Homo sapiens: one gene and its partners. The protein of the gene in region 3 purifies or fractionates together with the protein of the main gene of each other region. This does not show direct contact. Each region holds a gene or a part of one and is shown on either strand. Other genes may lie near its edges. The genes, in order: CTBP1, CTBP2, ZNF217 and EHMT2.

The links.
Region 1: the proteins of ZNF217 (region 3) and CTBP1 purify together in Homo sapiens (affinity purification with mass spectrometry; 12 studies listed by BioGRID and IntAct, with this or other methods). This does not show direct contact.
Region 2: the proteins of ZNF217 (region 3) and CTBP2 purify together in Homo sapiens (affinity purification with mass spectrometry; 7 studies listed by BioGRID and IntAct, with this or other methods). This does not show direct contact.
Region 4: the proteins of ZNF217 (region 3) and EHMT2 purify together in Homo sapiens (affinity purification with mass spectrometry; 2 studies listed by BioGRID, with this or other methods). This does not show direct contact.

What each region holds. Positions count from the first base shown.
Region 1 is NC_000004.12:1,246,122-1,253,930, forward strand, and holds the start of CTBP1 (C-terminal-binding protein 1), read right to left. Parts: upstream 3,010-7,809; 5' UTR 2,835-3,009; coding exon of another isoform or gene 2,795-2,834; intron 2,608-2,794; exon of another isoform or gene 2,087-2,607; intron 1-2,086. UniProt on the Homo sapiens protein: Corepressor targeting diverse transcription regulators such as GLIS2 or BCL6. Has dehydrogenase activity. Involved in controlling the equilibrium between tubular and stacked structures in the Golgi complex.
Region 2 is NC_000010.11:125,157,547-125,165,099, forward strand, and holds the start of CTBP2 (C-terminal-binding protein 2), read right to left. Parts: upstream 3,018-7,553; 5' UTR 2,773-3,017; intron 2,412-2,772; exon of another isoform or gene 2,311-2,411; intron 1,232-2,310; exon of another isoform or gene 1,089-1,231; intron 1-1,088. UniProt on the Homo sapiens protein: Corepressor targeting diverse transcription regulators. Functions in brown adipose tissue (BAT) differentiation. Isoform 2 probably acts as a scaffold for specialized synapses.
Region 3 is NC_000020.11:53,566,563-53,569,858, reverse strand, and holds the end of ZNF217 (zinc finger protein 217), read left to right. Parts: intron 1-594; coding exon of another isoform or gene 595-743; 3' UTR 744-2,788; downstream 2,789-3,296.
Region 4 is NC_000006.12:31,894,681-31,902,694, reverse strand, and holds the start of EHMT2 (histone-lysine N-methyltransferase EHMT2), read left to right. Parts: upstream 1-4,996; 5' UTR 4,997-5,017; coding exon 5,018-5,059; exon of another isoform or gene 5,060-5,129; coding exon of another isoform or gene 5,130-5,705; coding exon 5,706-5,772; intron 5,773-5,870; coding exon 5,871-6,089; intron 6,090-6,178; coding exon 6,179-6,432; intron 6,433-8,014. Other genes in the region: ZBTB12 (zinc finger and BTB domain-containing protein 12), read left to right, coding at 1,390-2,769. UniProt on the Homo sapiens protein: Histone methyltransferase that specifically mono- and dimethylates 'Lys-9' of histone H3 (H3K9me1 and H3K9me2, respectively) in euchromatin.

The DNA of each region.
Region 1 (7,809 bases), on a different chromosome or scaffold from region 3:
ACCTTGTGGGTTACCACGACCCAGTGCGGGGGAGAGCAGTGGGCTCCGGCCACTGCAGCTGACAATGGAGGACCCGGGGGTCCAGACACTCCCGGCACAGAGCTCTTACCCACAACTACCAACATCCAGCGACCACCAGAGGACCCTGGCGCTCCACCCGGCGCTCCGACCAGCGTTCCCTTGGGCGATGCAGTTCAACCACAGAACCCGTATGACACTGCCTGCTGCCTCTACCACCTCCTGGCCACCCCTGGGCCCTGGGCCAGGCCTGCACCGTCAGCACCACCTGGATGGAGCCCTCTCCAGCCCCCAGTGGAGTGGGAAACATTAAGTCCTTCTACAAGGAGAGTCAACCGGGGTAAACACCTCACAGGGCACACACCTTTGACTTGGGCACTGCATGGGGAGCACCAGGGCACAGCCGGGCACAAAGTGCTGCCTGAAGAGTTCTCAGCAACACTAGTGGTGCCAGCCACACGCCTCTTGGCTCAGTGACACCACCGTCAGCTCAGACCAGGTCACATTCTGGGGGTACTGGCCGCAGGAAGTTGAGAGGGCAAGTGACAGTCAGAGGAGAAAAACCAGAAAAACTGCCAGGCTGGTGGGGAACCAGGTGTGGCTTGACGGCCACCTCTAAGCCCCGAGGGAAGAGACTGGGCCTCTCGAGCCTGGGGCCCGTTTCCTGGAGAGCATGACTACTTCTGTCCAGGGTTCCTCCAGAAAAAATTTATTAACAGAATGATGGTTAACAGTTGCTGTCTGCTTACACTACAAATGTCCAAAGAGTGGGGGGCTCCCAGCCCTTGGGGGAGGCAGACAGGACGAGCCAGCACTTCCAATCCCACCAGGACATGGCAGGGGGCCGGCTCTGCGCCAAGCCCACAGGACTGGACCAAGGCTCGTCCCACTCATCAGAGGGACAGGACCAGCCCACAGTCCTGTGCACCCCGGGCCAAGCCTCTCCTCCCCCACTGCCACGTTCTCAGGTTAATGACAAGCGAGTAAAAGGGAAGATCCTACTCGCTGACATCCCCAACCACACGCCCACCTCTCAGAACTAACAGCTGCCCTGGTCAAGGCTGACAGGAAGAAGTGCATGTTGGGGACATGGCAGACACCCCAAAAATGGCCGGGCAGGCGGACGAGGCACCCCCAGGAGTGACCAGATGCCACCCCCAGTGCGTGTCCCTCCCAGAGCTCTGCAGAGGACGCCTGTATGGAAGCAGGTGCTCAAAGATGGGCAACAGAATCACAGAGAGCAAAAGGCGTCTGCGGAGCCGACAGCCCCAACCAGGAGCCAAACCCAGACCCCAGAGGGAGGTGGCCAGGCCCGGGCAGGCAGGGGAGACCTGGGAGGCCGGGTGCTGAGGCCCAGGGCAGAGCCACGCCCTACAAAGTTCCAGGACACAGAAAGGGGGACCCCCAAACCGCAGCTGTCATCCTCAGCTGCAACGGCAAATAGTTACCCCACGGTTCTCCCCCAACCCTGCCCCAAGCTGCAGACGGGTACACAGACGCGCAAAGGCCACGCGCTAGGAGCTCAGCGAGGACGGCCGCGGTGCGGGCCCAGCCGCCAGCGCCGTTTTCTTCCCGAGGGACGTGTGCTCCCTGCCGCGCTCCTACAGAAACGGTGGAGAGGCCGGGGAGGGGGGGGGGGCTCGGGCTCAACGGAACACCCTGCGCACCCGCCGCCTCGGCCCTAGCTCCAGGCCCTCTTGCCCCAACTCTCAGGGTTTCACCTCCCCACTCAGGGCACCGGGAAGGGCGCGACCGCCTTCCCTTTTCCCCACTGGAAGGGAATTCTGTCCCGGCAATCACGGAGACGACAGCAAAAGGGATCTGGCCCAGGCCGGGCTTCCAGACACCGGCGCCCTTGGAGGCCGCCAGAGAACGCTCCAGTCTCGGCCCGGGGCTCAGGCGCACGGACTCTGCCTTTGCAGCCGGGTCGAGGGAAAGAGAGGCTCCGCGCAGCGGCTCGGGCCGGCCCAGGACGCGGGCGCTGCAAGATGGCGATGGTGGCAAGCCCGGCGCCCGCCCGTGCTCCCTGCTTCCGCGGCCGCAGCCCGCGAGGAAGGCGCCCCGGGACCTGGGCGGGCCCAGGCAAGGGCAGGTGGGGGCGCTGGGCCGGTCCGGGACCTCGCGGAGTTCGCGGGAACGGAGACCCCGGGCCCTCCCGCGTCACCGCCGGGGGCTGCGCTTTGGGCCCGGTCTGAGGGCAGCGGCCTCCTCCACGGTCATACCCGGCACCCGCGCCCCGTCCCCTTCCCCCACAGCGCGCGGCCACGGTCGCCGGCGGCCTCCCCGCGGGAGGCGCGCTCCCGCGAGTGGCCCGGGAGCGCGCGCCCCAGGACACCCCGAGCTGCGCACGGCTCCCGCCCCATCCCGGCCCCGCAGGCCCAGCCACGGGGTCATGACCGGGGACGGGGTAGCGGCCGGGGATCGGGACCCGGGGTGCCGTCCCGGGTCCGACGGGGCTGGGGTCGGTGGAGCTGGGGGTCCGGCGGGGCAGCCCAGAGGCCCACAGGCCCTTTTGTGTCACCTGCACGGGCCGCGGGCGGGGAGAGCAGACTGCGGCGCTCGCGCACACGCAGCGGCCCGCGCATGCGCAAGACCCTTCCCGCGGTCCCGCCCCCGACCGCGGCCACGCGCGGACGCCGGCGCGCACGCGCACTCGCACACAAAGCCGGCGGCCCGCGGGCGCGCGCTCGGTCCGCCCCCGCGCCCCCCGCCCGCGCGGCACCCGCCCCGCCCCGCCCCCGCCCGCGGCCGGAAACGCGCGCGCGCGCGGCCTTACCAAGCGGCAGGCCCTTGTTGAGCAAGTGCGAGCTGCCCATCGAGAGGCGCGAGCGGCCGCGGGCCCCGACCACTCCGGCGCGCTGCGCCGCCGCGAGCCCGGCGCGTGGGGCGGCCTCGGCGCCGTCCGCTGCTCCGCCCGCCCGCCTGCGCCTGGCCGCCGCCGTGCCGAGTCTCCGCCGCGCCGCTGAGCCGCGCTCCGACGACCGCGCGGGCGGGGACACGGCGGCGCGCGCGGGCGGGGCCTCGCGGTTGGTCTCCTGGTTCCCAGCGCGGGCGGCGCACGGACTCACGCGGGCGGCTCAGGGCCCGCCCGGCCGGGACGCGGCTGCGGGGCGGGGCGGGGCGGGAGCCTGGCGGGAAGCTCGCGGGGCTGCAGCCCGGCGGAGGCCCCGGGCCTGGTGTTCCGCACGTTCTAAACCGCCTGTCCCCGAGGAAGTCGGGCAGGGTCGGGCCGGACTCAGCGCCGCTGGCGGGAGCGCCGTCCGCCCCGAGGACCCTGCGGGCCCGGAAGCCGAGACAGGGCCGCCCACGTCAGCGCCTGGCGCGGGCCCGAACGTAAATGGCGCTCCTCCGCGCCGCAGCCGCAGCCGCCCCGCTCCCTTCCCGCTCCGCCAGCTGCCGCCCTCCCGCGCTCGCTTCTCGCCCCGCGGCCTGGCCCGTGCGCCTCCGAGGCTGGCCAGGGGCACCGAGGCCGCGGGCCCCCCATCGCCCCCACCCGAGCCCTGATTTACCGTCCGAGAGCCGGCGGCACATGGGACCCCGAGAGGAGAAGCGCGCCTGCCCCAGTGCGTCCCCAGGCGGGGGAGCCCCGACTCCTGGAGGGACCGCGTCCTGCCCGGCCCGGGAAGTTCAGGGCTGGAGAACCCCTTCCCCGACCCCATTTCTCTTTTAACAAGAGTAGGGTTTGTAGCTAACCAACGTCCTGACAGCTCAGCTCTGCTTTCCCTTTAAGCATTAATATCAAAGCCCTGCCTGCTACCGGTGAAGCCCCGACCCGGGAGGGCCCGAAAGTCCCTTCAGGGAGAGGCCGCACTGGGCCTGCTCACCCAGGGGCTGCCCCTGCAGACTCTCCCGAGGGGCCCAGGGATATTCCTCGCGCCGCGAGTGGACGCTTCCATCCACCCCATGGGGAGGGCCTCTGCGCGTGGCTACTCTGAGCCCTCTGGAATGCCGAGATAGTTGCATAATTTCAGAAACCACGGCATGGAGACGGAATGATGCAGACTCCTATCCGCGAGATACCTGCTGTAATTTCGCTGTGGTTCGTGAGGACGCGTCCTGGGCTGCCCTGAGAAGCCTACGTCTCCCCTTCGAGGCCCGGGAAGACCTCCAACCCCGCTGACAATGCTGGGCCCTCAGCCAGACCTGCCCTGCGTGCCACGTTCTGTTCTAAGATCGGGCTGCCGAGCTGTGGCCTGGAGGAAACCTGGCAGGTGTCACCAGAGCTTTGGGGAGGGTGAGGCCCTGTCGGGGAAGCCCAGTGGGAGTCATGAAGGAGGGAACACGTGTGGAGCCCTTGTAGGGGGAGGGGCAGCCCTGCAGAGATCTAAGAAAAAATTCCAGAAAAATGAGCAGCAACCTCCAAGGCCAGGCATCGGTGCAGGGGACAAGGGGTCGTAGCTGGAGGGGCCTAGGTGAGGCTGCCGGGAAGGGACGATGTGGTTGGTGGAGTGCACAGGCAGGGACCTCACTGGACTTTCCTGTCTGCTCAGCATGGACAGGCAGCCCAGGAGAAGGCAGCACGTGGCCGGGTGCAGGGACGTACCACCCCCACTTCCCCAGGGGAGCTGGGGTCAGACGAGTCCCAGGCACTCCATCCTCTGCAGCAAGTCAGGTTGTGATTTACTAGGGGGTGGTGAATATAATGGAGAGACTTCTGGGGAGGAATTCCTGGCTCCCGCGTGGACTTGCAGAGCTCAACAGGCAGCCACGTGGCTGAGTGTCCAGCAAACATCACATAAGGCTTTGGGTCCTGCAGGTGGGGCTGCCATGAGCAGCAAGCTCAGTCCAGAAGAACAGTTCCTCTCCAGGATCCACTTCCTGCGCACTTTTATGTGCAGTGTAGCTGGAGCAGAGCTCCCCGGAATTCCACAGGCAACTGAGAACGGAGAGGGATGCAGGCCAGCCAGGGATCCAGCGTCTTCCCCATCGTCACTCTCCATGGCCTCCGTCTACACACAGTGTTCGTCTGCACAGCTTGTCAGCGCGTTATCATGACTTCTATTTGGCACCGGCCCGTCTGTCCACTGTCCTGGCTTGTTCCAAGCGCTGCCTTCTCCAACTGGGGTCCTGGCTGCAGAGCTGTCTGCTCCCCACGTTGGGCAACTCCAGCCAAGATTCCTACACCCAAATGTGACCGTGTTGCTCACGAAGAAGGCTCAGCTTTGCGTGTGCCCAGCCGTGTGCACAGCTCGTCCCAACTCCTGCGGGTGGCACCTGCCTCTCCCACCTCCAGTCTTTCCCCTGTGATGAGCAGATGACCACCGCCCTCCAGGGTCAGCGTTTGGCTGTTTGTGTGCCTGCCCACCCGCCTCCCTGTGCCTGGGCCTGCCCTGTGCCTGCACACAGGAGTGGCTCATGGCGTTTGCCCTACACGGATGGGCTGTCCTGGGAGCTACTGGACAGTCACCTTGGTGGGAATGCCAGAGGCATGGGCATTAGGTCCCCCCGGCCAGCCTCCGTTGCCACATGGGCTATTTTTGTCCATCGCGTGGGACAACCTAGTATTGGGGGAAAACTCAGTCCACTCTAAAGAAGCATCGGCGTTTTGGATGGACGAATGCTGCTTCATGCGACTCCATGTCAATGGACTATTTTATTCAACTCGGGTATTTATGAGTGTCTCCTCTGTGCCAGCCACGTGTGAAAGAAGAACTCCAAGTTACTGGACACCAGGACAAACCAGGTAGATCACTGCATCCGGTTCCTCCTCTTTCTGCCGACTCTCCCGGGCAACCGTTCTGATTCCTGGCATGGAGTTGGGGGCGAGCTCATCAGTACCCAGAGCGCCTGGTGTGCAGCCAAAGGCCCCCATTTTATTAGTCGGTGTGTTCAGTATCACGCTCAAGACAAGGGCCAACCTATTACTTCACACACCTCAAATACAAAAAGTGCCTGGGAACGTCGATGAGGTATTAAAGGAAACCACTGGTCTTGTCAGTCATGTACACACAGAAAAAAAAACCAGTCATTTTTATTTTTATTTTTTGAGACAGAGTTTCGCTCTTGTTGCCCAGGCTGGAGTGCAATGGTGCAATTTCAGCTCACTGCAATCTCTGCCACCCGGATTCAAGCAATTCTCCTGTCTCAGCCTCCCGAGTAGCTGGAATTGCAGACACCCATCACCACGCCCAGCTAATTTTATGTATTTTTAGTAGAGATGGGGTTTCACCATGTTGGTCAGGCTGGTCTTGAACTCCTGACCTCAGGTGATCCACCCACGTCAGGCTCCCAAAGTGCTGAGATTACAGGCATGAACCACTGTGCCCAGCCGAAAACAACCAAGAATTTTTTAACAATAAAATGACCAGCAAGTAAACTTGAAACAAAAATGGACAAATATCTAAAATATTTTTAAATGTATGTATTTTAATTGGCAAATAATACTTGTATATATTGTTTACAACTTGTTTTAAAGTATGAATACATTGTGGAATGGCTAAATCAAGTTAATTAACATGCATTAACTCACATACTTTTTGTTTTTTGGTGTGGTGAGGACACTTAACATCTACTCTCTTAGCAATTTTCCAGTCACCATGTCCTACTATAGATCCCTAGAACATATTCCTCCAATGTAACTGAAATGTATCCCTTGACCAACATCACTGCCCGGCCCCAGCCCCAGGTAAACACCATTCTACCCTCTGCTTCTGTGAGTTCAGCTTTTCTAGATTTCACCTGTGAGTGAGATTGTGCAGCATTTGTCTTTCTGTGCCTGGGTTTTTTCACATAATGCCCTTCTGGTTCATCTATATTGTCATATATGGTAGCATTGTCTTCCTTTGTAAGGCTGACTGGTATACCATTGCGTATATACACCACATTGTTTACCTAAAATATTTTTTAATACAATCGCTGAAAACTGCCACATAACTTGTATAACTGCTGTAAGGCTTGGTTTTCAGCCATAAGATGGGAAGAGAAGTAACATCTACCTTGCAGGATGACTGCAAGCTGTAAAATGCCACAAAGCGCAGGGGAGCCCAGAACCGCCGCAGCAGGACAGGTCCTCTGGAAGCAGACAGACCTGCCTTGTTACTTTAGCCATCCAGAGTCCAGTTTAGCCAGTGATGAAATGAGTACAAAAGAACACCTTTCTTGTAGGATTGCAAAATGATGTCTTCATCCATTCTGTGCTGCTATAGCAGACTCCTGCACACTGGGTAACTGACAGCTTACAGAAGCTTGTTGGCTTATGGTTCTGGAGGCTGGGAAGTCCAACCTCAAGGGGCTGCATCTGGTGAGGGCTTTCTTGTTGCATCATCACATCGCAGAATAGCAGAAGGGCAAGGAGAGAGAGAGAAAAGAGTGCTGAACCCACCCTTTGATAAGAAGCCCACTCCCATGATAATAGCACCAGCCCATTCAGGAGGGCAAAGCCCTCGTGGCTGCATCGCCTCTCAAAGGTTCCACCTCTCAAGATCATCACAATGACAATCAAACTTCATGAATTTTGGAGGGGACAATTATTCAAACCAGAACAGAGGGGGATGGCAAATGTTCTGAAAACAAGCCTAGAAATTGATCTTAGAAATGGTGCAAAAGTAGATTTCCCCTTCTGTCTTTACCTGTGATGGTCTAACCCCAAAAGCCTCCCAGAACAGAACTTGTGAGCACAAGATAGAAACAACAAACTTGATGCAGAGCTGAGCTCACAAGGAGGTCAGGGATGTGACAGGAACCAGAGACAAACAGAAGGCTGAAAACCAGGTCTTAAAGTGTGAGAGCCAAAGGGCAGCAGCCCAGGAGAGTGTTCGTCTGGAGCCCCGGGGTTTAAGTCTCCACACTCAC
Region 2 (7,553 bases), on a different chromosome or scaffold from region 3:
GTAACTGGGGTCCCCTACCCCTGGGGCACAAAAAACCAATCAGCGCCATAAATTCCCTTTGCCTTCAACCCTCTCTCCCTTTTACAGGGGGGCAGGGTAGGGGGAGGGGGTGACCCAACATCAACACTTACACTCTACAGAAATATGCTGGCTTATTTCCTTTGTTTGCTCATGTTATACTTGATCAAGTGTGAACGATTAAACTGGTTTCATTAAAGGCAAGTGCATTCACGGCTAACATCCAACTTCAATGGCAACTGTAAGCATATTTTGCAAGAAAGAGGGCCTGTTTTTTTGCTTGAAATCTACCATCTCATTAACTTTTCTTTTGGGGGCAATAAAAAGGGCACTAGGGGTTTTTCAGGAGAATGTCAGAGCAGTTCAGAGATCTGATGCCAGACAAAAGAATATTTAGCGTTTCAACTCTACGATACAGTCTCTGCTAAAGAAAAAAATTCTGTTTCAACATTAAAGCAGCTATGACTGAAAATGTCTAATTAGCATTTTGACTATTACTTTATAATTGCTGTAAGAAGTATCCTTTGAAATCAAGTGATTACAAAAACAAGATCCTTTAAAGTCTCATTACTTCAAAATAGAAAAGATTTATATTTAAAAAAAAAGGGGGGGGTTAAAAACCTCAGAATTCTCAAAGTACATGAAAACTACCCACTTCTACTTGGAAAACCCTCGAGGCAAAACAGCAATCTTAGGTACTGAACACGAGGTAATTTTTAAACTGTCTTCGAACCCAAACACCTAGTAGAGAAAGCTATCTTTTTTGAAAGGGTGGTATGAGTCGATATATTTCGCCCAAGTTAGAAAGGCAGAAAGAATCACTTTGTAAACTTCCCCAAAATATAACGTCCCCTCAAAATTATCCATGTCAGATAAAAATATACCAGTCTCTAGAATATCCAACAGAATTGCAAATAAGGCGTTTAGCATTTTAAATTCCCAATGCATATTTATAGAATAGAATTCTCTTGTCTATCCTTCCAGCCACTCGCATCAGACTCTCTAAGAACTTAACCCGATCTCCAATCTTTAAAGAAAAAAGGGGGTAAATACACAGAAGGATTGTTTACCCCGGACAGGGCAAGGAAGCCCGGTATGACGACGTAGGCCATTGCCAGCAGCCTCCACCACGAGCACGCAGAGCGGGGATTTCTACGAAAAATTCCTCCTCTTCCCTATAAAATCCTAAACGTGGGGTCCTCTGCAGCCAACTGCCGCTTGGGCCGCCTCCGGAAAAAGTACCGGGCGGGGGGAGGGGGGACAACCACAAACACTCGCGCGCACACGCTCACTCCGTGTCCGCGACCGTCGTCGCCGGCGGAAAGCGAGCCACGGGAGGGAGTGTGTGCGCGCGTGTGTGTCTCGGCGCGGCCCGCGGTGACCGAGCTGAGCTCTTGGGCCCGCGGCCTCCGAGCCCCAGGGCGCGGCGTGGGCTGCAGGCGACCCGCCACGCCGCTGGGCCTCCCGCGGGAGAAAGGCCCAGGCACGCCCCGGCTCCCGCGCGCCTCTGCCCAACTCGCCCGGGGCGCTGGGGGCAGCGCGAGGGAGAGAAAGAAAGGCGCTTCCCCTCGGCCGCGCGGGGCCGTCCGGCGCCGCGGAGGGCTGGGAGGAGGAGGAACCGCGGCGGCCCGGCTGTCCCTGCGCCGCACCGGGTCCCTGCCGCCCGGGGCGCGCCCTAGCCAGCCCCTCCTGCTAAACTTTTTCTTTTTGATTCGCCCCACCCGAAAAGTGCGGCCCGGGCGGGGAAGGTGGGGGAGGCGGGCGGGCCGGGCTCCCGGCGGCGGCGGGCGAGGAGGAAGTGGTGCCCGCGGGAGCGCGGCCGGGCAGAGGAAATGCCCGGCCCGCCCGGCCCCCGCCCGCGCCCGCCGCCCGGCCCGCCCAGGCCCCCCGCCCCGCCGCGACTTTGGCGGGCCGAGCCCCGCGCGGCAGTGGCGGCGGCGGCAGCGGCAGCAGATGTGGCCCGGCTGCCCGGAGGAGCCAACAATGCGGGGCCGGCAAAACAAAAGGGTTCCACTTCGCCTCCTTTCCCGTCTTTCACTTGCGCTCCCGGGGAGCCGCGCGGGATCCCCCGCCGGCAGGGGCAGCGCCCCTGGGGACCGAGAGCCGCTCACGCCCCGACTTCCCCACGGAACCCCTCTTCTCCGCGCCCCCCCCACCCTCGCCTCGTAGGCGCAAGGCCCGCCGCACCCCGGCGCGCTCGGACTCCTGTTCCCCGGAGATCCGGCCGTATTGTCCCCGCGGCGCGTCGCGCGCTCGGCCTGGGTCGCCGGCGGCCCCCGGGCGCGCACCCACCGGGCTCAGGGAGCAGGAGCCGGGGGCGCCCAGGGAACCGTCGCCGAGACGCCGCCGCCGCCGCCGCCGCTGCCCTCCGGACGCCGCCGCGCTCGGGGTTTCTTTTTTTTTTTTTTTCAACCCTGATGGGAAGGAAGGTGACCGCCTACTTCGCATTCATCAACTCTCATCACAACAACAAAAATCCTGGCGCAAACGGCGGCCAGCGGGCGCAATCGGTGGCGGGGGCGGGCGGGGACCCCCGAGCCAGCGTCCACCCCCGGGCGCCGAGGGGGGACACGAGGCCGGGGGCACGGACCAAAGATGTCCTCGGATGCCGGCTCCGCGTCCTTCGCCCTCTTCCTCCTCCTCCTCCTCCTCCCTGAGTGGCGCAGTGAGGCGCGGGCGCGGCGCCCCCAGCCCGCGGCCGCAGGTGAGGCGGGGGCGGCGGCGGCCCCAGCCCTCCCCCGGGGCCCCCCTTACCTCGTCCCGGACGGTCGGCGTCCACGGCGAAAGGCGCCCACCCTGGAGGCGGCGGCGGCGGCGTCTCCCGCCCCTCCCACCCCACCCGGCGGCGGTGGCGGTGGCGGCGGCTGTGCGGCCCCCCCTCAGCGCGGCATGGCTCCCGGTTCGGTCCCTCGCTCCTCGGGCCGCCGCCGGCTCCTCCGGGCCGCTCCCGAGCCACCTTAAAATGACACACGCACACAGGGACACACACACAAAAACTTAATCTCTCCAGCTCCCCGCCCCTCCCCCTCCCGCCCTCCCCACCCTCCCTCCGCTCCCCTCCCCTCCCCACCCTACCCCTCCCTTCCCTTCCACCTCCTCCCCTCGCCGCCGAGCCTCTTCCTACTTCCCCACCCACCCCACCCCCTTCCTCCGCCCACCCGGTTCCCAATTCCCCCCGCGTCCCGGCCCCGCGCCCTCCCGCCCGCCGAGAGGGGGCTGCGCTGGGGGTCCCCGGCCCGGGCCCGCCCCGCGCCGCGCTCACCCCCGAGAGGATGCTAATTCCAACTTGGATCGGGGGAGGGAACGTCCTGGATGCCGAGCGCCTCCCGGCTATTTGCTCTTCTTTATTTGTTTTCTCCTCCGGGGAAGGAGAAGGAAAACGGAGAGAAAAGGAAAGGAAAGAAGCGGCGCTGGCCGCAGCTCCCGGTACCCGCTGGCTGCGCAGGAGCTAGGCGGGAGGCGAGGTGAGGGTCGCCGCTCGCTCACTCCTCGCTCCTGTTTTTGGGGGGGGGGGGCAAAGGCGGGGTCTCTTTTTGCAAACCAATGACACAACCCCACATGGGCCGGCCTCGCCCCCTTCAGATACTCCTCACTACAAATCGGCTCTCTCGGGGGATTAGTGGCTCCGCGAAAGTGCACACAAGCGCGGCGGGCGGGAGGGCCAGGGGCCGGGCGCGGCGGGCACTCCCTAGCCCGGCCCCGCCCGGGAGGCCCTCGGGAGGCGCGGGGGCCTCGGTGGCAGGGGCCGAGGTCCTGTCGCGGTGGCTCGGGGTCCGCTGCTCCCCTGGCCCTTCATCCTCCTCCGCCCCTTCCACGTGGGGTACCGGGCAGCCGGCCACGTGGGGGAACGCGAGCCCCGGGTGGCCCCGGTCCCATGGGGCCCCGCCCAGCCAGCGGCGCCAACCAGCCCCCTTCCCGGCCCCCGGGCTCCAACTTCCTCCTGGTGCCCCGCACCGGCCGCTTCTGCCTTCTCAGGCCCGCGGGGTCAGGCGCGGGCCGGCCACAGGGGGCACTTGCGCTCCCCAAATCCAGATCCGGGAGACCGTGCCGGAGAGGCGGCGACCGCTGTGGGTGCGCAGGGAAGGGCCCTCTGTGCTGCAAGTTGCAGCAGTGCTGTGCCCTAAAAGAAGCAAAACATTCTTACACATTGAAAAAAAAAAAAAAGGTTCCCTCTTGCTGCCTGGATCTCGCCGGGGCATTTGAGAAGCCCTGTGTTGGGTCGGAGCCCCGGGTCTCGAGGAGGGAGGCGCGCTGCGGCGTGGGGGCCCGCGACTCGGGGTCCTGGGCTTGCGCGGCGGCCCGGAGCCCACGCCGTCCTGACGTCTCAAGGTTGGAGTCTGCACAGCGAGCCTGGGAATCCAGGCCCAGCGGCCGCTCGCGGCCCAACGAGCACCTGGGCTAAATTCCCCGCCCGTGACCCGCGACGTCCGAGCGCCGTCTCCGGAAGGGAGCTGGTGGCCGTGGAGTGTGGGGTCTTCTCCCTGCGCCCCAGGGCCCCCCAAACTCTTCTCACTACCCTGAGTTCGGCGTGCGTCCTCCAAGAATCCCTGGGTGGGCTGAACTGAGCCCTTAGGATCGATTTGTTTAAAAACCCTATTGAGATATTAGGAGCTGGATTGAGATGTCGAGCAGGAAAGGAGTGGGAGGGGTCTGAGGTCCCGCCTTTGGAGGCCGCAGGGACCGCCATTCCGCGAACCCAGCCGCGCGGTGTGGTCTCCTCCATCCCTGAGTGCCCCGCGCCCTGCAGAGCCGAGGAAACTTACAGCCAGGGCCAGGGGGCCGGAGGAGAGGCCACCGAGCTGCACGACCCTTTTCTGCATCCCAAAGAGCGTTGCTCCAGGCCTCCCAGTCTTCATTAAACATTTCTTAAATCCTGCCCCAGCCCGCCGCGGGGCTTGTTTGCCAAAGCGCACCAGGTGCGTTGCGGCCTGAGCGGCCTGCAGTGGAGGGGCCGGGACTATCGAAGATTGCTTAATCACTCAACAAGATTTTAAAACGTGATTGAAGACCGCCTACCTGTGAGGGCAGCGCCGACCAGGCTTTTCTTGCCCGCTAGTCCACGTAATGCGGTCGCTAAGAAGCCCGCAGCAGGGTTTTCGCGTGACCTTCATAGGGCCTGGCCAGGCCAGCTGAGGGGCGCGCCGGGCTGCGCTTCCATCGAGGAACCTCCGCACATGCAATCACGGTTGTCTCGTCTTCTGGCAACCCTGGATCTCCACAAACTGATCTTCAGGGTGCTTCTCTCTTCAGCAGTTTTGCCTCAAGGGCATGGCGCCTCAGCTAGTTTTTGGCTGTAAACAAACCGCGGCCACCGCCAGGCTACCGGGTTACCAGTACCTGTTCTTCGGAGTTTCTTAGGCATAAACTATAAGAACTACAAATAAAGATTTTCTGCTTCCTTATTTCACAGAAGTCTTTGGTTCTGAGTGGTCTTCTTTTCTCAGGAAGAAACCACAAAAAGCCTGATTTTCCATATCACTCCTTCACTTTCACGTGTTCTATAAATTTGAATTCTGACTTAGAAAGTATTACTAACATGTTCTTGGCCGGGCACGGTGGCTCACGCCTGTTATCCCAGCACTTTGGGAGGCCAAGGCGGGGCAGAACACGAAGTCAGGAGATCAAGACCATCCTGGCCAACATGGTGAAACCCCGTCTCTACTAAAAAAAAAAAAATACAAAAATTAGCTAGGCCTGGTGGCGCATGCCTGTAATCCCAGCTACTCGGGAGGCTGAGGCAGCAGAATCGCTTGAACCAGGGAGGTGGAGGTTGCAGTGAGCCAAGATTGCACCACTGCATTCCAGCCTGGGCGACAGAGCGAAACTCCGTCTCAAGAAAAAAAAAAGAGAAAGTATAATTATTATTATTATTATTGAGACGGAGTCTCAGTCTGTCACCGGCTGGCGTGCAGTGGCGCGATCTCTGCTCACTGCAAGCTTCGCCCCCCGGGTTCAAGCCATTCTCCTGCCTCGGCCTCCCAAGTAGCTGGGACTACAGGCGCCCGCCACCATGCCCGGCTAATTTTTTTTTTTGTATTTTTAGTACAGACAGGGTTTCACCGTGTTAGCCAGGATGGTCTCTATCTCCTGACCTTGTGATCCGCCTGCCTTGGCCTCCCAAAGTGCTGGGATTACCGGCGTGAGCCACTGTGCCCGGCCGAGAAAGTATTATTAATATATTATTTGTTTTGAAGACATTAAAAGCAAGGCATCCTGAGAGCTGAAAAGTATTTCTCACTTCACTTTACCTGCATTTTAAAATATGGAGCTCATTTGCCCCCAACATGTGAATTATTTCATACTATTTTTTTTAAGATGTTGCAAACAAAAAACCCAATTCAAAAATGGCCAAAGACTCAATAGGCATTTCTCCAAGGAAGGTAGACAAATGGCCAACGGCCAGTAAGCACATGAAAAGATGGTTGGCCTCACTGGTCATTAGAGACATGCAAATCAAAACCACGATAAGTTACTACTTCATGTCCACCGGGATGTCTTTTATCAACAAAAGAGAAAAAAACGTGTATTGAGGAGGATGTGGAGAAATGGGAACCCTTGGACTGGCACAGTGGCTCATGCCTGTAATCCCAACACTTTGGGAGGCCAAGGTGGGCAGATCACCTGAGGTCGGGAGTTTGAGACCAGCCTGGTCAACACGGTGAAACTAAAAATACTAAAAATTAGCCAGGCGTGGTGCACGTGCCTGTATTTCCAGCTACTGGGGAGGCTGAGGTAGGAGAATCGCTTGAACCTGGGAGGCGGAGGTTGCAGTGAGCCAAGATCGCGCCATTGCACTCCAGCCTGGGCAACAAGAGTGAAACTCCATCAAAAAAAAAAAAAAAAAGTAGTGAAAGAAAAGAGAGATCCACAGCCCCAGTGTGGAGCGTTGAGTTTGTAAGGCACTTATTTTCTTCCGTCTGGCAGCCTTTAAACAGGATGGCATAATTCCTTCCCTACTTTATACCTCCTCGGGAGCACTTCTGATGTCTGTAGGAACCCAGGGGCTGAAAAAGGCCCGTGGGACCGGCCTGCGGCTGCATCACAGCCTGCCTCCCCCGCTACAATCAAAGACCTCTAACCGAGGTTCTTATTTCTCAGCTTCCTATCTTTCCTATTTCATTTCCAGGAACCAATGGTTGTAGAAAAAAAAGATAGTGGCCCTAGATAATGGTGGGTCCTTTTATCGGAACTGTTTTGTGCAATAAAATGGACTAGTTGTGTGCACTTGAGTATTTCAAGGGTCTGTGCAGCGAGAGTTACTGGGAGTTGGACTTAACTGTATTGTTACTCACCTATCTCTGTTATTCAGGGTTCAGCTCACTTCAGAACCGCAATTATCTGAAGCTCTCAGTTGCTGTCCTCAGTGGATGTGGGAATTTTGTTGCAATGTTTTATAGAATAACAGTGCTCTCTTTGGCTATAATATAATCACTATGTGATTCATAATTAATTCTAATCAGTGAATACATATTGCTTTTATAGATGCCATGGCCCTTTCCAACTATGCATTGAAAATCCTAGGCTCGGCCGGGCAA
Region 3 (3,296 bases):
CCTCCTGAGTAGCTGGGATTTTCTTGTGCATGGCAACTGCCTTTTACTGAATTCTGATTCTTGGTTAAGTCATCTCAGTTAAATTACTAAAAGTAGCTCCAAAGTTCGCAGCATTATCTAGTTAGTCATTCTCCTAATACTTTCATAGCAAAAGTTGAACTTAAATAGAACCCAGGGCCAGGCGCAGTGGCTCATGCCTGTAATCGCAGCACTTTGGGAGGCCAAGGCGGGCAGATCACTTGAAGTCAGGAGTTCAAGACCAGCCTGGCCAACATGGTGAAACCCTTCTCTACTAAAAATACAAAAAAATTAGCCGGGCGTGGTGGTGCATGCCTGTAGTCCCAGCTACTTGGAAGGCTGAGGCAGGAGAATCGCTTGAACCTGGGAGGTAGAGGTTGCAGTGAGCCAAGATCGTGCCGCTGCACTCCAGCCTGGGCGACAGAGTGAGACTGTCTCAAAAACAACAACAACAAATAGAACCCATTGCATTTCTAGGTCAGTTTGGTTCTATGTATTACGCTTTTTTAAAGAAAGAATTTTCTAAACTGTATTCAGTTTTGATCTTAATCATTTAAAAAATGTTGTTTTCCTTAGGTCTTGGTGGATGTCAGTGCTTACTCCCCATGAAATTAAATTTTACTTCATCCTTTGAGAAGCGAATGGTGAAAGCTACTGAAATAAGCTGTGATTGTACTGTACATAAAACATATGAGGAATCTGCAAGGAACACTACAGTTGTGTAAAGTTGTTCTGTTAACTTTTGTACCAAATAGCAATACAAACTAGTTGGAACAGTTGGAACTTACATACATGGGGACTGGAAATCTCTATTTTGTCCCTGAATAATATTTTTCTTAGAATTGACCAAATAAGAAGTGGAATTTTTGCATACTTGAGCGCTGCTGAAAAGAAATCATTTGGGTTGGGTGGGGCGGGATGGGGGAAAAGTATATAATGCTTGCACCTCAGGTAAAAATCTGTAAATATCTAAGTTGTAAACCTGCTTGTTCAAATACTGTGTGTATTCCTTTTCTCTAATGCAGCTCATCACTTGGAGCAGTTTCTGCTATTGTGCTCTTTCATTTAAAATGTATGTTTTTTTTTTTTTAAACTGTCAATGATTTTGTATTATGTTGAATCCACCCAAATCTATTGTTGTCTTAAAATTGTTAATGGAAGTATTGACCCTCTATGATATGTGCTGCAGATATCGAGGTCAGCCATTCGGAAGCTGGCAGCATTTTATCGCAACTTTGAGCATCTCAGATGGGGAAGGCACCTTCTTCCTCGCCTCTCCAGATTGTCCTGGAACCTCCAGGATCCTTGACTGAGGGCGTTGGGATGGCTTGTAGGATTTTTAAGAGAGTGTGTCTACAGACAAGCATTTTCTCTGTAGAGCAGCCACACGTTGTATAAACATAAACTGTATGTGCAGTTATTTAAATTTGTTTCTGTCAAATTAATCATTTTTGTTGGACGATTCAGTGGCGGGGGGGTTTTGCCTAAATTAGTATATAAAAACAAAAATGCTAAATTATATCTGTGAATTGCAGGTATTGGGGAACAGTTTTAAGGGAAATTTTGGGGGGAACATTTTAGGTTTGTATTTGGTAGTCTTAATGTATCTGGCATTTGGGTGAACTGTGGACATACTAGAGTTGATTATAGACACATTGATTTTGAATAAGGAACTGCTGGCCGAGCCCGCTGGGAGTCTAGAAAGAGAAAATCTGTTTCTAGACCTCAGTTATTTTCCCATTTTTGGTTGTTTTGAAGCAGTAACATTTTTCTCAGTGCACATGCAATTTGGGTTTTAGAGAAGATGGCCACCAGCTGGCTTCCTAGATATTTTAAACTTTTGTTCTTTAATATGCTGTCCATGGCTGAGTTTATTAGTACATGGGCTTAGTGACCACAAAATATTTTATTAAGAAACTGTTTCAAAAATAAATTTGCACTGTTCATTTTTCTGGCCTCGCTGTTCTCCATAGAGCAAGGGTAATCCTAGAAAAAATTTTTTTTTTTTAAATTATGCAACGTAAGATGTCCTCCTTGATAGAAGTCTTAGCTCCTGTGTTACAAGGGAGAACTCATTTGAGATCAGTCTGTTGGCATTGCAATGAAGTGCTTTGTATCAGGAAAGTGTACACTATTGACCTTTTTTCCTGTTCACAAGCTGAGCCATATGTACATAATCTAGATTTTGTTTTCATAGTTTTGCACTTTTATAGCCTATTTTTGAAGATTAACACATTTGCAAGATGATTGACTCAATCTTTGCCTAATCCAATGAGTGTTACAGAGAGCTTGCTGTGACTAGAACCATAAATCTTAAAGGGGGTATGTGATAATAGAGGGCTGGAATTTAAACCTGTATTTAAAAAAAAGAATCACCAAATCTATTTGAAAACAAGTCGATTTGTATTATGCTGGAATTTTTTGGGCTTTCAGATTTCTCTTTTTAACCACATTTCTGAATGTATAAAAATACCAATTATTTTCCTACAGCCCTTTGTACTTCAAAATATGTTTTTGTGTCCATCAGTATTAACTATTGGTATACTACTGGTTTTATATTTTTTTTTCTTTGAGACAACAGTACATATAATAGAGGTACAATTCGTTGGATTTTTGTTTATGTATTTATTTCATTCCAGTTTGATTTATTTTAATTGTTGATACTTAAGTTGTCGAACAGTAGACATTACTTGTTTTATTTATGATATATTTCAGCTTAAAGTTATGTTATTATATGTGGAAGTGTAAATATAGATTTGGTGTTTTGCAATCTTGAGTTTTAGTGTTTATTGTGTTTCTGGTTTCTGATTTTGTTTTATTTAACTTTTTAGTTTTCTTTCTTTTTTTTTTTTTTGAGATGTGCTCCTGCTCTGTCACTCAGGCTGGAGTGCAGTGGTGCAATCACAGCTCACTGCAGCCTTGAACCCCTGGGCTCAACTGATCCTCCAGCTCTCGGCCTCCCGAGTATCGAGCCATCATGCCTGGCTTATAAACACAATTTTAAGGCCAGCACGTGGCTCACGCCTGTAATCCCAGCCCTTTGGAAGGCCAAGGCGGGTGGATCACTTGAAACCAAGAGTTTGAGACCAGCCTGGCCAACATGGCGAAACCCCGTCTTTACTAAAAATACAAAAATTAGCTGAGTGTGGTGGTGCACACCTGTGGCCCCAGCTACTCAAGAGGCTAAGGCATGAGAAATCACTTGAACCCGGGAGGCAAAGGTTGCAGTGAGCTGAGATTGCGCCAGTGCACTCCAGCCTGGGCAACAGAGCGAGACT
Region 4 (8,014 bases), on a different chromosome or scaffold from region 3:
GCTTTGTGGAAAGTGAAATCATATTTCAGGCCTGAAGGGCTGAGGCGGTTACTAGCTTTACAAGAGTTGGAAAAGCCTGGGAATGTGTCTGGAGCAACTGTGAGCACACTCAGCAGAGGAGGCAGGCGTGGGTAATAGCTACCAACAGCTCTGTTAGCCACGGGGCGGATGGGGCCCTGAGAGGTGCCACGGATGCACCCAGGGCAGCGCTCGGCACAGCTGGACCGGAGACGCACCACCCCTGGGAGCAGGTGGCAGCGCCCGCAGCCGAGAGAACGGGTGCGCGCGCGCGCTGCGGGATGCGGCGCGGGCGGGGCGCGGGGACGCGGAGCGAGTAGCGCCATGGGCAGCCGGGATTGGGGGGCGGGCCCGAGTGAGCGGGCCTCCGCGCGGCACTTGGCACGCACGCGCAAACTGGCCGCGGGGCTTGGAGGTACAGAGGAGGGGGAGCGAGAAAGAGGGGGGTGTGGAACGTATTTCCGCTCTGGCGGACAAATAATCCCGGCCAAAGAGGAGGCAAGGCCGTCCGGCCCTTTAACCGCGTGGGGGTGCTGGTGAAGAAAGGGGGGTCGGGAAGGGGGGATCCTGCTCCTTTAATTCCCTCCCCTCTTCCTCCTCCCCGAGTCCTAGCCGACGCCGCCGCCGCCGCGCGCGCGGGGCCTGGAACACACGGCACGAGCCGCCCCCGCCCCTCCCCCCTTACGCCCACGCGGAGCCGGCCCCGCGCGCGCGCGCGTCCCGTGCATCCCCGCGCCTGCGCGCTGCCCAGGCCCTGCCCGTGTGTGGGGGTCGCTGCCGGCCCCGGGGGGGGGTGGGGAAAATAAGGGATTAAAAAAACAGCGCGCGGAACCGGGCCAGGTGAGAGGAGCGTGCACTCAGGGTCGTGGGGCTGGGGGGGCGTGCCACGGAGCTCTGAGCGTGGGGGCAGGGCGTGCACGGTGCGTGCTGGCGGCGGGGGGGAGGACGTGAAAAGCGCGTGCAAACGTGTAAGGGGGGGGCGGAGGAATGAGGCAGCCGGTAAAGGGGGCGGGGTGAGAAGAGCCTGCAACCGGGGCCACCTTGGAGTCCAGAGCCCCAGGCCTCTGGCCCCCCTTTTTCTCCGTCCTTCCACCGTGGGCGCGCGGGCTCGCCCCATCCTAGCGGGCTGCTGGGCTGGGGGGTGTGGACGCCGCTGCCCCGCCCCCGAGAACCACGCCTCCCTCCTCTCAGAGGGACAGCACCTCCCCAGGGTTGGGGAAACTGAGGAAGAAATCTGAAGACCGGGAGATCGGATGCCGGGGGGCTGGGCAAGAATGGGGGCGAGGGTCCTGGAGCCTTGGCTTCGGAGAGCCAGAGACCTTTGTCTCTGACCGGTTTCCTTCCCAACCAGGGTTGCCCACCCCCGCCACAATGGCCTCTGGGGTGGAAGTCCTGCGCTTCCAGCTGCCCGGCCACGAGGCCGCAACGCTACGGAACATGAACCAGCTCCGGGCAGAGGAGCGGTTCTGCGACGTGACCATTGTGGCCGACAGCCTCAAGTTTCGAGGCCACAAGGTCATCTTGGCCGCCTGCTCACCCTTCCTGCGGGACCAGTTCCTGCTGAACCCCAGCTCGGAGCTGCAGGTCTCCCTGATGCACAGTGCACGCATCGTGGCCGACTTGCTCCTCTCCTGCTACACGGGCGCCTTGGAATTCGCTGTTAGGGACATCGTCAACTACCTTACAGCCGCCTCCTACCTGCAGATGGAGCACGTGGTGGAGAAATGCCGGAATGCCCTCAGCCAGTTCATTGAGCCCAAAATAGGCCTCAAAGAGGATGGGGTCAGTGAGGCTAGCCTTGTGAGCAGCATCAGCGCCACCAAGTCCCTCCTCCCTCCAGCCAGGACCCCAAAGCCAGCCCCGAAGCCCCCACCCCCACCTCCTCTACCCCCTCCACTCCTGCGGCCAGTGAAGCTGGAGTTCCCACTGGATGAAGACTTGGAGCTGAAAGCCGAGGAAGAGGATGAGGATGAGGATGAGGACGTGTCTGACATCTGCATCGTCAAGGTGGAGTCGGCCCTGGAGGTGGCACACCGGCTCAAACCCCCTGGAGGCCTGGGAGGGGGTCTGGGCATTGGAGGCTCCGTGGGTGGCCACCTTGGGGAGCTGGCCCAGAGCAGCGTTCCCCCCAGCACTGTAGCCCCACCGCAGGGTGTGGTGAAGGCCTGCTATAGCCTGTCGGAAGATGCAGAAGGGGAGGGCCTGCTGTTGATTCCCGGAGGCCGGGCCAGCGTGGGGGCCACCTCGGGCCTGGTGGAAGCAGCAGCGGTGGCCATGGCTGCCCGGGGGGCGGGGGGCAGCCTGGGGGCGGGGGGCAGCCGGGGACCCCTGCCTGGGGGCTTCTCAGGTGGAAACCCCTTAAAGAACATCAAGTGCACCAAGTGCCCGGAAGTGTTCCAGGGCGTGGAGAAGCTGGTCTTCCACATGCGGGCGCAGCACTTCATCTTCATGTGCCCTCGCTGTGGCAAGCAGTTCAACCACAGCAGCAACCTCAACCGCCACATGAACGTGCATCGTGGTGTCAAGTCACACTCGTGCGGCATCTGCGGCAAGTGCTTCACACAGAAGTCCACCCTTCACGACCACCTCAACCTGCACTCGGGAGCGCGGCCCTACCGCTGCTCCTACTGCGACGTGCGCTTCGCCCACAAGCCTGCCATTAGGCGGCACCTCAAGGAGCAACACGGCAAGACCACGGCCGAGAACGTGCTGGAGGCCAGTGTGGCCGAGATTAACGTCCTCATCCGCTAGCCGCGCAGGCGTGGAGGCCAGGAGGCTGGGGCCCCTGGGCTGCGTGGAAAAAGGGCTCTTTGGCCCAGGAGAATTGGGGGGTGGGGGGTCTGGGGCAGAAAGGTAAGAGTGGGAGGCTGAGCAGATGCACACATCCTGAGAGAGGGAAGATGATTCCTTGGAGAGACTTGCTCTTGAGAGTGCAAGAATCTGGAGCTGGGAAAAGGGTTCTTGGAGGCCAGGGGAATACGGGGTCCCAGAGAAAGATTTCCTTCTCTTAGAAGTGCATGTATATGTGGAGGGAGGGAAAAGGGTCCTATAGAATGAGGGAAGACAAAAATGTTTTATTCCTGGCTAAGGCTGCCCAGGGGAAGGTTCTGACATTTCTCGAGATAAGAAGGGTTGGGGGGTGGGTGGGAACAGGGAGGGAATTTGGCAGGAGGACATGCTCCTGCTTAGAATAGACCTGGGGTGAGGGAGTGGTAAGGGGAAAAGATTACTGAGTCCCAGAAAAGGAAGTGGGAGACAGTTCTTGCATGCTGGGGAAATGAGACTGCGAGTATGAGGCTTGCTGAAATTTGAGGGAGAACAAAGTAAGACGCCAGGTAAGAGAACGTGGGGTGCGCATCCTGGGTAGATATTGGGAAGTGGGGGTACAATAGCAAGAAACAATGGATAGTCATGGGGGTGGGGGGGATAGGGCACTTAGAAAAGAAAGAACACAAGAAGGGCTGTTGGGAGGGAGGGAGAGGAGTAGAGACATACAGTATTTTTTAAGAAAAAACATATTTTTTAGGATTTTTTCTGGAGTTTGGGGTTTTAGTTTTTCTGCTTTTGTTTTCCACAAAATAAAAAACAAAAAAAAACTTTTTTTTTTCCTTTACACTCTGGCAACTGCGTGTACATGACTATCCTGCCCTAGACAGCCTCTCCCTGTGATGCTGCGTTCTTAATACCTAGAGGTCACAACTCTGCATATCCCTTGCCTGAAGGAGCCCAGCCCTAAACATGGGAGAGGAGTGTGACAAGTGAGCTCCTCTGGTCAGGGACTCCCCCAAGTCCCCACCCCCAGCCCTCCACCAGTTCTGCAATCTCAACACTTAGCCAGGTACCTCACAGTACAAGTGATTGGCAGTCGTGGGGATGCACATGAACTCTATTTGAGGGACTTAGGATCAGTGCTAGGGATGAGCTACAGGTGGCCAACCTGCCCACGGAAATTGTAAGCAGGAGTCTGTTTGGTCATATTTTGTCTGGGGTAAATAGGTCATGTCTTCAGGAAAGCTAAAAAAAAAAAAAAAAAGCTAAGTTTGGATTAAGGTGCAGGGAAAACTACAATTCCCAGAAAGCTCTGGAATAGTTAACCAAAGAGAACTACAGTTCCCAGAAGGCCTTTAATTGGCCTCAGGTGCCCCACCTGCCTGTGTCAAATACTGCGTGTGAAATCATACAGATCTTTTCCAAACTCGACCAAAACGTAATACCTAAAGGGATGGTACCCTAAATACAGCTATCGAGATTGTCTATCTTGGTGTATATCATTTATACTTAAATTGTCCGCTGGGCTATGACCCACGGAGTACCTGACTGTGCTTATGAAGTGTTCGGCAAAAAAGGTTTACTTACTGCAGTGTCACCAGTCAGTAATGACGTTCGGGCCGCTGGGCTTACCTGGATCCCTAGTGCGTGTGAAGGTGTAACACGCCTGATATAAACAGAAGAGACATTTAGCCACAGGTTTTCAGAAGGGCACGCTGCTCCAGGGGACATGAAGCAGCATGCTAGAACCAGCCAAGAATAAAGGTGTCCTCCGCGTCCCTATCGCCCCTTCGTGCTCGTTAGAAAGAGCAAAAAGGCGAGGCCAAAACTGAGGCCAAGCCTTCTATCTGGTAACCCAAAAACTAGAAAGGCAGAAAAGCAACCAGAGGCGGGAAAAGCCCAACCAGGCCAGAGGAAATACAGCCGCTGCCGAGAGCCGAGAAGTTCAGAAGCTCCGCTTGTTACCTAAAACCAGATGGGGACAGAGACGCCACACCTGGGCCCAGGCGTGTCTCGCCCTCGGTCCCTGCAGAACTGAGGCCAGGAATGACAGGAATTCTCCCTTGCAGCTCCCAGCTTAGGACAGTCACAGCCATCTCCGAGGCCGCTCTCAGGGGAAAATGGCCAAAAAGCATGTAGCGGCTCCTTTAAGGCTCCTCCTCGCCCTCCCTCCCTCGCCCACGTGACCCGGGGCGGCCGCGCGCCGGCTCGGCCCCCAGCGCAAGCGGCGATGGCGGCGGCGGCGGGAGCTGCAGCGGCGGCGGCCGCCGAGGTGCGGAAGGGGAGGGGGAGAGGCGGGTGCATGCCCGCGCGCGCGCCCGGGGGAAGCGCGCGCCCGTGCAATGCTCCGGGGGTGCAACGGGGCCGGGGGGCCCGGGCGGGACTTGCAGCAATCCAGGGGGCCAGCACCGGGGGCGGATGAGGGGACCAGGGTGTGGGAGGTGGGGGGAGTGGGCACGGAGGCGCGCGTGCAGCCGCCGGCTGCCCCTGAGTGGGCGACGGGCGCCGGGGCCCCAGGAGCACGCGTGAGGGGCACGAGGGGCCGTCCACCGGGCTGGGGGGCAGCGGGTGCTGGAGGGGTTGGTGCCCGGGGTCCCCGCGGCCTGGGGGACAAAGGGGGAGCGGCGCGTGCAGCCGGGAGGAGGGGGCGGGGCCGGGGCGCGGAGGCCCCGCCCCCTCCCCCTCCTCTTCTCTCGGCCCCAGAGATGCGGGGTCTACCGAGAGGGAGGGGGTTGATGCGGGCCCGGGGGAGGGGTCGTGCGGCCCCTCCGGGCAGCCGAGGCCGCGGAAGGGGGGGGCCCCACAGAGGAAGAGGTAGGCCCCGGAGCCTACTCTCTCTTCCCAGGGCCCAGGCATCCTGGACCCCCCAACTCTCTACTGGGCTGACCAGCCCTCCTGTCCCTTGTCTCCCCTCCCAGGGGGAGGCCCCCGCTGAGATGGGGGCGCTGCTGCTGGAGAAGGAAACCAGAGGAGCCACCGAGAGAGGTGAGTGCAGCTAAAACGGGCCCCAATTGGACCGTCACCTTCCCTAAACACAGGATCTCCTGAGCCCTTAGCTCTGAACTTTTTCTCTTCCTCTACAGTTCATGGCTCTTTGGGGGACACCCCTCGTAGTGAAGAAACCCTGCCCAAGGCCACCCCCGACTCCCTGGAGCCTGCTGGCCCCTCATCTCCAGCCTCTGTCACTGTCACTGTTGGTGATGAGGGGGCTGACACCCCTGTAGGGGCTACACCACTCATTGGGGATGAATCTGAGAATCTTGAGGGAGATGGGGACCTCCGTGGGGGCCGGATCCTGCTGGGTGAGAGGCTGGGTAGCCTGGGGGGTTGGTGGGAAATTTCTGACTCTTGCCTTCTTTCTTATCTTGCCTTTTGCTTGCCTGTTTTCTAGGCCATGCCACAAAGTCATTCCCCTCTTCCCCCAGCAAGGGGGGTTCCTGTCCTAGCCGGGCCAAGATGTCAATGACAGGGGCGGGAAAATCACCTCCATCTGTCCAGAGTTTGGCTATGAGGCTACTGAGTATGCCAGGAGCCCAGGGAGCTGCAGCAGCAGGGTCTGAACCCCCTCCAGCCACCACGAGCCCAGAGGGACAGCCCAAGGTCCACCGAGCCCGCAAAACCATGTCCAAACCAGGAAATGGACAGGTGAGTGGGATGGGAGAGATGGGATAATCAACCATAAACCTTTGGTGAGCTCTTTTACAGTTTCACTTAAGGCTTCTACTCCATTTACTCATTCACATATTTAAGCAAGGGGCTGCTGTGTGTCAAATATTAGGCTGTGCTTGATCTGTGAACCAACAGACAGGTTCCTCTCTTCCTGCAGTTTACATTCTTGGGTGGTGAAAGTTTGATGTTAAAGAGTCAATTATATAGTTAATGTCTTAATTACTCTTATGATAATGACAAGGTAAGGGAATTTCAAACCACTCTTCCTTTCTACCTCAAAGCAAGCCCTTGGGGAACTCATCTGTCACTGCTCTATTTGTAAAGTTTTTCCTGGGAATCCCAGTGGGAAAGGAGATGAGGGCCACAGAAATAATAGAGGAGGGAAGTGACAAGGGCACCAGAAGCTTTATGACCAAGTTCTAGGGTTCTTGGGTCATACCTATTGTTGACCTAAAGGAAAAAACTGAGGCAAACTTAACATTAAGTAAAGTATATTTGGTCAGGTTTTGAGGACAGCCTTTAGGAGCAAAGATTCAAGTTGCCGTGAAAATACACTCTGATTAGCAGCAGTTATAAGTAGGGGTTTTTTTGTTTGTTTTGTTTTGTTTTTGAAGACAGTTTCACTATGTTGCCCAGGCTGGTCTCAAACTGCTGGGCTTCAGCAATCTTCCTGCCTTGACCTCGCAAAGTGCTGGGATTACAGGTGCAAGCCACCACAACCAGCCCACAAGTAGGTTTTTAAAGGAAAAGAAGATTGGATGACGTGAAGATATTGAAAAAAAACAGGCTGACTCTGGGCACACTGCGTAGGAGTTAGCCCTGCTCTGGAAGGAGCCGCAAAAAGAAAAAAAAAAAGATAAAAATTTTTTAAAAGATTGAAGAAATAACAAAGGAAAAGAAGAGGCAGTTCCTAAATTGTTTACCAGTTTACATTAGAATAACAAGCTATTGATCTGCTATACATTGTTCTTTGTCTCACAGATATTAGGCACATGAAGATAATGGGTGAAGCAGCACCCTAGTCAGGTACAAAATGCCTTTAAGCAGTTGCCTCCAGGCATGGGCCCTAACCGTTCCATGCTGACTTCTCGCTGAGCCTGATCAATTTTGCCTGCTTCACATAGCACAGGTTGCTATGAGCTACCTTTCCTTTCTCACTATGATAAACATTAATTTTTATAGTTGCAATTCATTTTGTAAAGAATAGGGAAGAAAAGGAAAATTGAATTTATAAATTAGGTACAGTGAGAGATTAACAACAATAATAACATAATAGCGTAATCCTAACAGTAGGCCAGGCGTGGCTTGCCTATAATCTCAACACTTTCAGAGGCCAAGGCCGGCAATCACTTGAGGTCAGGAGTTCGAGACCAGCCTGGTAAACATGTCCAAACCCCGTCTCTAACTAAAATAATAATAATAATAATAAATTAGCCAGGTGTGGTGGCGTGCGCCTGTAATCCCAGCTAGTCGAGAGGCTGAGGCAGGAGAATCACTTGCAGTGAGCCAAGATCGCGCCACTGCGGTTCAGCCTGGGCAACAGAGCGAGACTCAAAAA